Linked DNA regions of Homo sapiens: region 1 is linked to region 2. The links come from fine-mapping of genetic effects on gene expression. Tissue or cell type: spinal cord. Region 2 holds a variant in brackets; the other region holds the start of a gene. All regions are shown on one strand. Distances are from middle to middle. Region 1 holds the start of LINC02821 (long intergenic non-protein coding RNA 2821). Region 2 has its middle 36 kb from the start of LINC02821.

Evidence for each region. PIP is the estimated chance that this variant, and not a neighbour inherited with it, causes the effect. A credible set is the group of variants that fine-mapping cannot tell apart.
Region 1: it holds the start of LINC02821, and the variant in region 2 is the best candidate, but not a certain one, in a credible set for the expression of LINC02821 in spinal cord (GTEx, PIP 0.51).

Annotation. Positions count from the first base shown.
Region 1 is chr12:70,177,739-70,182,148 of GRCh38, reverse strand. It overlaps LINC02821 (long intergenic non-protein coding RNA 2821), which reads right to left and starts at 1,822. Exons shown (of 3, transcript XR_945070.3): 1 at 1,611-1,822; 2 at 1,199-1,258.
Region 2 is chr12:70,142,592-70,147,001 of GRCh38, reverse strand. No RefSeq gene overlaps it. Among named protein-coding and RNA genes, the nearest start is that of LINC02821, 36 kb to the left of the region's middle. The variant A/G (reference allele first, on the strand shown) is at 2,607.

The DNA of each region.
Region 1 (4,410 bases), 35 kb before region 2:
AAATAAGGATTTATTTAGTTTTTTGTAGTTTTCCCCCTCCTCTCATCCTTCCAGTAGAGTTCTATCACAATATTTTGCTAAATCAATTACTCTGTGTTTATGTTATTAATACTATAAAAATATTGTTCCCTGCAAAGCTAAATAAACCTGTGCTTATATACCTTTTATTATATATTTAATATTTTTTTCCTAAGATTAATAATTGCCTGGTTTGTTTATTGGTTCATTTTCTATGTATCTACTCTTAATTTTTAAATATGCTCTACTAAATCTGTTATACGCCTACTAATATAATTTTCAGGTATTCAAAACAAAGATATTTTGCCCATTTCATCTGGAAACCTATGCCCTCTTCATCCATTTGCTCTGATTTGAACTGGTTATTTTCTGAAGTCAGCTATGCAGTTGACATTCTGGATCTTGCCCTTGACCTTTCTTTCTCACACTATATCCAGTCTGCAGGCAAATATGCTGCCTTTACCTTCAAAATGTATCTGGAGTCTGATCCCATCTCTTTTTTTTTTCTTTTTTTTTTTTGAGATGGAGTCTCACTCTGTTGCCCAGGCTGGAATGCAGTGGTGCGATCTCAGCTCACTGCAACCTCTGCCTCCCAGGTTCAAGTGATTCTCCTGCCTCAGCCTCCCAAGTACCTAGGATTACAGACATGCACCACCACACCCGTTACAGAAATGCACACCTAATTTTTGTATTTTTAGTAGAGACAGGGTTTCCCCATGTTGGTCAGGCTAGTCTCAAACTCCCAACCTCAGATGAGCCACCACCTGGGCCTCCCAAAGTGCTGGGATTACAGGTGAGAGCCACCACACCCAGCCTGATCCCATCTTGACCTCCTCTGCTACCATCCTGCCCAAGCCACCATCATCTCTCTTAAACACTGAAATAGCCTGCTTAACTCTTCCACCCATTCCCCCTTTCAGCTAAAAATATAGCACAGATCATGTCTCATATATTTATTAGTTAAGTGCAAGTAACAAAAGGAACCATATGCCATTTGGGAAATGTTTGTTTCTTTTTCTAAGTGTGTATGTAGGGTAAGGGTTTCGGGCGAAAGTTGGTGGTGGTGGTGAACAGATTACGGGTATGGGAATTCTATATACATTCTCACTGATTGGCCTGTAGCAGATCAATGTTATGGAAAACAGAAAAAAATTTTAACATTTCCACAATAAGTACTTACTATGCATTGTGAGGTTAAAGAAGTAGAAGAAGATTCTTGCTTGTGAAAATTTACAAATTTCTGTAGGAGATAAAACATGTACATATTCCACACCGAAAGAACAAAACAATATTTGATTATATGTAGAAACTAGTATTATAGACTCCTTAGAAATTCAGAGAGAGAATGCAACATTTTGGCTGACTAATAATATATTAAAAGCAGGATTTGAGTTTGAATTTAAAATATGGGTGATATTAATATTTTACTTCCAGTGACTGCAAGGAGAATTTTGGACTGAGATAATGATGATGACATTAAAGGTATGCAACAGGAAGTTTTATTAGGGTTCTCCAGGTAAATGAAAAACAATAAGAAATGTAAATATTAATAGATTAGATAGAGAAGAGAGTTATTATAGGAATTGGCTCACATTACTTTGGAGACTGAGAAATTCCATGATACGCCATCTACAAGCTGGAAAGCCAGGGAAGCTGGTAGCATCGTTCAGTCCAAGTCCAAAGTCCTGAGAACTTCAGGCAGTAAGGGGATGCTGGATTAAGTCCCAGTGTTCAAAGATCAGAGAACCTGGAGTTTTGATGTGCCAGGGCAGGAGAAGATGAGTGTCTCAGCTCCAGAAGAGCGAGCAGATTCAGCTTTCTCTTGCCCTTTTGTTCTATCCAGGCCCTCAGCCAATTGGATGTTGCTTATCCATGGGGGAGGGTGGATCTTCCTTACTGAGTCCACTAATTCAAATGCCAATCTCTTCCAGAAACAGCTGCACAGACATACTTAGGAATAATGCTTTACCAGTTATTACCAGCTGGGTATCCCTTAACTCAGTCAAGCTGGCATCGAAAATTAACCATCACAGAAATCTACACCCAATTTAAAGAGAATGTGGACCAGGACAATTTGATATGTAAGATTTGTGCCAAGGAGTAGCTGAAAATAAGATGAAATGGATAGATAGGTTTTTATTCATGTTCAATATCTAGTAGATCAGTTCCGCTTATCTTATTGATTTAATTAACCTTTGATATATCATGGGCAATTATAATAGTTCTCAGCTAACCCAAGAAAATAGATTTATTATTACCTCCTTCTTATAGATGAGGAAACTTGAGGCCCAAGGACGTTAAATAACTTGCCTAAGGTCAAAAGACTAAGGATGTGGTGTAGTTAATATCTGAACCTATGCAATCTCATTTCTGAGCCTATGCTCTTAAACACTGCCTTTACTGGCTTTCCTTGTCTATCATATATGTTACAAATATCTTTTCAATTTCTCATTCATAATTTTAATTTTGTATATGGTCTTTCTTACTGGATGATATTTAAAATTTTATGTGAGGCCAGGTGCAGTGGCTCATGCCTATAATGCCAGAACTTTGAGAGACCGAGGCAGGAGGATCACTTAAGCCCAGGAGTTCAAAGTTGCAGTGATTCATTGGGGCCTGTCAGGAGGGGCGGGGTAGGGGGAGGGAGAGCATCAGGAAAAATAGCTAATGCGTGCTGGGCTTAATACCTAGGCAGTGGGTTGATAGGTACAGAAAACCACAATGGCACACATTTACCTACGTAACAAACCGGCACATCCTGCACATGTATCCTGGAACTTAAAATAAAATAACAGACAAACAAAAGTTGCAGTGACATGATTGTGCCACTGCACTCAAGCCTAGGCAGCAGAGCAAGACTCTGTCTCTAAAATAAATTAAAATTTAAAAAATCACAAAATTTTATGTAATCAAAGTTTCAATATTTTTCTTAATTTTATTTAGTTTTGTTTCATAAGAAAGGCTTAGTATAAAGAATAATAAAACATTTCCTATTATATTTTCTTTTGAATTTTTAACTTTTATTTTTAACTTTATGATAATTAATCATGAATCTTTTATTGTATTTGTCTATGGCCTGAAGTAGAGATCTAATTTTACTTTTCTTCCAAATGGCTAGCCAATTATCCTCAAAATATGTCCTTTTTTAAATGACTTGACATGCCACCTTGATACAGTAGATGTTTAGAAATTTGCCAGTTGCTGGACATTCTACCAATAAGTGTTTCATTCTGGTTAAGAAGAATTCTTTTAAAAGTGTAACCCTGGAAGGAATATTAGTTAGAAACACTGTAATGTAAATTAGTTAGATAATACTGGGTATCTATTGATACCCAGCTGAGATAAATGTAGCTAAAAATAGTAATTTTGGCTCTGGAGGTCAAATCTTCCTGGGGACAAGGAAGTTAAAAGTAGAAAAGTTAATTTTTAATGTGGCATGAATGAGAGAAACTATTGTCTTCTTCACAACTGTTGTCATTGACAAAAAGCTCTCGCATTTTTTGATGACAATTACTGAAGTATTATCTGGCACCAATTGAAATAATACGGACTTATAATATGGCTTTTTAGTAAGCAAATCACTCCAAATTTTTCTAATATTTTTCAGCTTTAAACCAATGAAAAAGCCATAAAAATAGCCACAAGGATAAATAGTCCAATGAAGGCTCTTTCTTTGTAAATGTGAAACTAAGATCGATTTTGGGAGAAAATGTCAAATCTTTTCATTTCCTCTGGGGACAGCATTATGCAGGTATGTTAGTAGTCTTTCTGTAGAGTATCAGGAAATCCATCTGCAAATAATGAATAATTTCCTCCCATTTCACTATGTGCATGCTCTGAACAATTAATGTCCTTACTTGCCTTCACAATGGTTCAGTGTGATCTAACACAGATTGAGCCATCTGTCTGTGTTTTCTTCCATTTGCAACATTTGTTCTTCCTGCTGATCTGACTGCTTCTTTTCTCTGCTTTCTGATTCAGATTGAGCAAGCTTTCCCAGAAATGTACTTGTTAGCCAGAAGCAAGTCTCTTGGACTACAGAAATGTAAAATATTCTCCTACTATATTCATCCTGTTAGTAATGTTTTTAAAAACCTTTTTTAAAAAAGTATATTGCCTGGAAAGCATACTAGGTTCTTACAGAATTTTTAACCTCTTGGCAAAATCAAATATATGTAAATCTAAAATCACGTTTGGAAGAAATAAATACAATTTTCTGTAAATGTGGTCCTAAGGATCATTAGTGTCTTGTTCTAGTGAAGTTCCAACATTCCTTCTTAAGAAGAGCATCTCAGTACATCCAACTGGAATCAGCTGGCTTCCTCTTGAAGTACATTCTTTTCATGTTCCCTCAGTGAAAGTCTTTTGGTGATAAATCCTGTTTTCAATTTT
Region 2 (4,410 bases):
ATGAACAAGGAAAAGCATTATACTCAGAGGAAATGGTGTATAAAAAGATATGGATTGTTGAGAGAGTACAGAGGGTGTGTGAAACTGAAATGAGGAATTAAACTGATATAAGAAATTGCCAAAGGAAGAGCATCTCTGAAGGTTTTATCACTTCTATGGAAAATATCATCAATATTACAAAAAGGTAAATAATTTTCAGAACTCTGAAAGTGTTTATTTTGATGATCTTGTACTTTCTTTAATTATCTTATATGATTCACTCGCCACACTCTGCCTATGTATTTTCTTTTTTTGCCAGAAAGCTTCGTGCTTAGTTCTGTTTTCAATTGTGGTAGCCTCTCTCAGACTGGTTTTTCTGATATAGTTATGTTATCTTTTTTTCTTCATTTCCTTCTTAGTTATTTGCTTTTAATTGCTGTTCTCTTGTTTTAAGTTGTCTCTTAGAAAATTATTTGTGTTTAACCTATGCCCTGGAAGAGTCCCTAATATGGAAGAGAGGCAAACACCACGACAAACTGCCTACTTTCCTATTCTGAGCAGGGCTGCCTTTGTATTGAGTTTGTTAATAGGTGTAGAAGATAGTTTTTGATGTTATTAGACATATGATTCAACTGCTTAGCCGTTTAATTAAAATGTTGAAGCTTAGATGTGAATGGCAAAAATGGAGACTGGTGACTTAAGCACAGAACAAACATTTACAATAATCAAAAGAATTTACTTTATTTCTTCCAGTGATTTAAAGTTTAAATAACCTTTTTATATTTCACATAAAGTGTGCAGGCTTAAAGTTTTAAGGAAGGTTTTTTTTTTTTAATTCTTATTTTCTCCCCTATTGATTCTAAAATTGGGAAAAACATACCACTCCTAAATTCCTGAACATTAATTATTTTTTTTAGATCTTTAGTCAGTCAATCTGTTAAACACTTTTTCTTTGCTTTCTTTTTTTAGAAAAAATCTCATTCCACTAAATGCATCTATATATTCCATACTCAATTCTTTTTGAAAGAAGACATAGCATAAATAAACAGAAAAATATTTATTAAGCACTCACCTTGCAGCAGACATTTTAATGGGAGTTGAGATTATAAAAATAAATGTTTATAGCCTGATAAATGAGAAAAATATTTCAAGCAAATTATTATGACATGGTGTGATAAGTGCAAAAGTAGAGGTCTCCTATGAGGGTTTTAAATTGTCTCTTAGAAAATAGAGAAGGAGACACTTGAACTGGCTCTTGATCAATAACAGGGCCTTTGCCAAGTAAATATCTGTGCTGAAGAGTGAGGATTGTGGTAAGAAAGGAATTGCATGTGCAAATGTATCAGACATTTAAAGAAGAGCTATTTGATCAGACTGGCTGGACTCTTAGATAAGGTCCTTTGTGATGGCAGAACCCAGAGTGAATGATTGCCAGAAAGATCTAGGAGCTGGGATCAAGGTCTCTTTAAAGTCTCTTTTTATCCTTTTATTTCCTATAGAACTTTGTAGAAATTAGGACTACTAAGACCTACAAATAACACAACCTTTATTACAAAATAAATGGGGTCCACAAGAAAACTTTTGCTTTCCTCCAGAGTTAAAATCCATATCTAGATGCCTGAGACATTTATCACTGTGGTGTACAGGCAACGCGGAAAGTTAGTGAGAATTGGGATGGGCTTCAATATGTAGGCTGAGACAACTGTAGTTCTTATTCTTTGATCTTTGTCTCTGGTCTTTGATGTAATAACAATTATCAAATAGCAGTTTGATGATGAATACTGCACGGTAATTTGGGATGTCTTATAATTTTTAAGATAGGGAACAGTCTGTACAGCAGTGCAGTGAAGTGATTTGCAGAGATGTGCCCTGATTAGTTTAGGGTATTGTTATTTAGCACTATTATTTTCTGTTTACTATTACCTGTAATCAAGACAATTAAATTATATACGTTTGAATGCCACAATTGCCCATATGCCATGGCTATGTTAGTTGGCAGCCAGAGAATTGAAGCATGGCCTATGTGTCCATACTCATTATTTTCATGACTGATTGTAGAGCATGCAGTTAGACTGACTGTGTCACCAGTCACTCCAATCTGTTATACCATAGTTGTTTTGTAAATTTGGATTTAACCCATTATGGAACAGAAATATGGCCAAGGTAAAGCTGTGTCCAAAAATGTAATCTTTATAGGTTGTCCATTTAGGCTATTACTTCTTACTTCTGTCCTTGTTATCCTATTACTTGTGCTATAAATATAAGGGCTCACGATTGCCACTGAATCCATACCATATGACCTTGGCTGCACATGAAAACAGATATAATTCTGTACAAGGAATAAATATTTTTTAAGGTTTCATGTAAAAATCTCAAGTCCAATTTTTTCATTGCCTCTATTAACAAACAGATGTATCCACAGAAAATATGTTAGCTTCCAAGGAATGATAAAAATCACTCTTAGGGAAGCAGCAAATCTTTTAAAGTAACCATGTAAAGGAAAATATCATTATTAATATATCCCTGAGAAAATAAATTTTCCATATTACCATTAGAGTATTCCTTTGCATTCATAATTTTTCAGACTGCCCATAAACTATAGAATAAAATCTAAACCTTGGCCAGGC[A/G]CAGTGGCTTACACCTGTAATCCCAGCACTTTGGAAGGCTGAGGCGGGTGAATACCTGAGGTCAGGAGTTCGAGACCAGCCTGACCAATATGGTGAAACCCTGCCTCTACTAAAAATACAAAAATTAGCTGGGCATGGTGGCATGCACCTATAGGCCCAGCTACTCAGGAGGCTGAGACAGGAGAATTGCTTGAACCGGGCAGCAGAGGTTGCAGTGAGCTGAGATCATGCTACTGCACTCCGGCCTGGGTGACACACCAAGACTTCATCTCAAAAAAAAAAAAAAAATCTAAACCTTTAGTATGATATCCTTTGTATCAGCCTACCAACTTCCTCTCCACTATTCTTCCCCATTAAATCTCTGCTCAGGTCTTATGTTTTTCTTGTTGTTCCCTGAAGATACCATGTGCTCTTGCCTTAGTACGTTTGCATTCAAACTTTCCTCCCTCCATTCTTAGCAAGCTTCTATTTACCTTTCCCCTCTTACTACTATTTTTGTTTGTAGTTACTGAGTGCTCACTATACTCAATCCCTTACATATATTACATTATTTAATTCTCACAGTAGCCCTATGACATAGGTATCCTGATTCATAGAGGTTAAGTAACTTACTCAAGATCATATAGATAGTAAAGTGACAGAGGTCAGATTTAAATCCAGAGTTTTCCAAGTCAAGGACAAGAACTTTTAATTTTTGTATATGCTGAGAAATGTGTATCCAGATGTATTCTTCTACATATGGCTATTGTATTAATCTGTTTTCACACTGCTATTAAGATACTATAATTTATAATTTATATAATTATATAATTAAATATAATTATAGAAATTATATATAATATATAATATATATAAATGCTGTTATATAATAATATATAAATATACATTTTATATATAAATATATATTTATGTGTATCCACAAAAAACATGTTAGCTTTATATAAATTTAATATAATTTATATATATTATATATATTTTATATATTATATATATAAATTATATGAAGATACTATAATTTATAAATTATAAACTTATAATTTATAAACAATTTATAGATAAAATAGGTAATTTATAAACAAAAGAGGCTTAATTGATTCACAGTTCTGCATGGCTGGGGAGGCCTCAGGAAACTTAAAATCATGGCAGAAAGTAGAGGGGAAGCAAACGCTTTCTTCGCAAGGCAACAGGAGAGACAGAGTGCGCAGGGGAAACTGCCGCTTTTAAAACCATCAGATCTCGTGAAAACTCCCTCACTATCACGAGTACAGCATGGGGGAAACCACCCCCATGGTCCAGTCACCTCCCACCAGGTCCCTCCCTTGATACAGTGGGGATTACGATTCAAGATGAGATTTGTGTGGGGACTGAGGAGAGTGAAAATCACCTGGTGACCACTGAAGAGGTCCTGGAGACAAAAACTTCTTATCTGAGGAATTTAGAAAGGAACAAAGACCACCTGTTTGCATCTAGTTCCAGGCCTCTTTCAACTTTTATGAGTAACTAAAATTTCTATACATCTCTGGAATGCCATGCCAAAACTCATTTTACAATCCTAAATTCCCTCCTTAAAGTCATAAATACCCCTAAGGAAAATCCACCACAGTGTGTTTAGTCCTCTTGCTGAGGCACCCCGCTGCACCCTTTTGGAGCGTTCTTTCTTTGTAATGAACTTTGCTTTTTCAAACCTATACTGTTGTTGGTAAATTCTTTTTACCAACCTGTGAGTCGACCACTTCCCAGTGCCAGGGCTCTGACACATCATCCAGCATCTTGGTGACCCATTATGTGGACTTTACTGGGATTT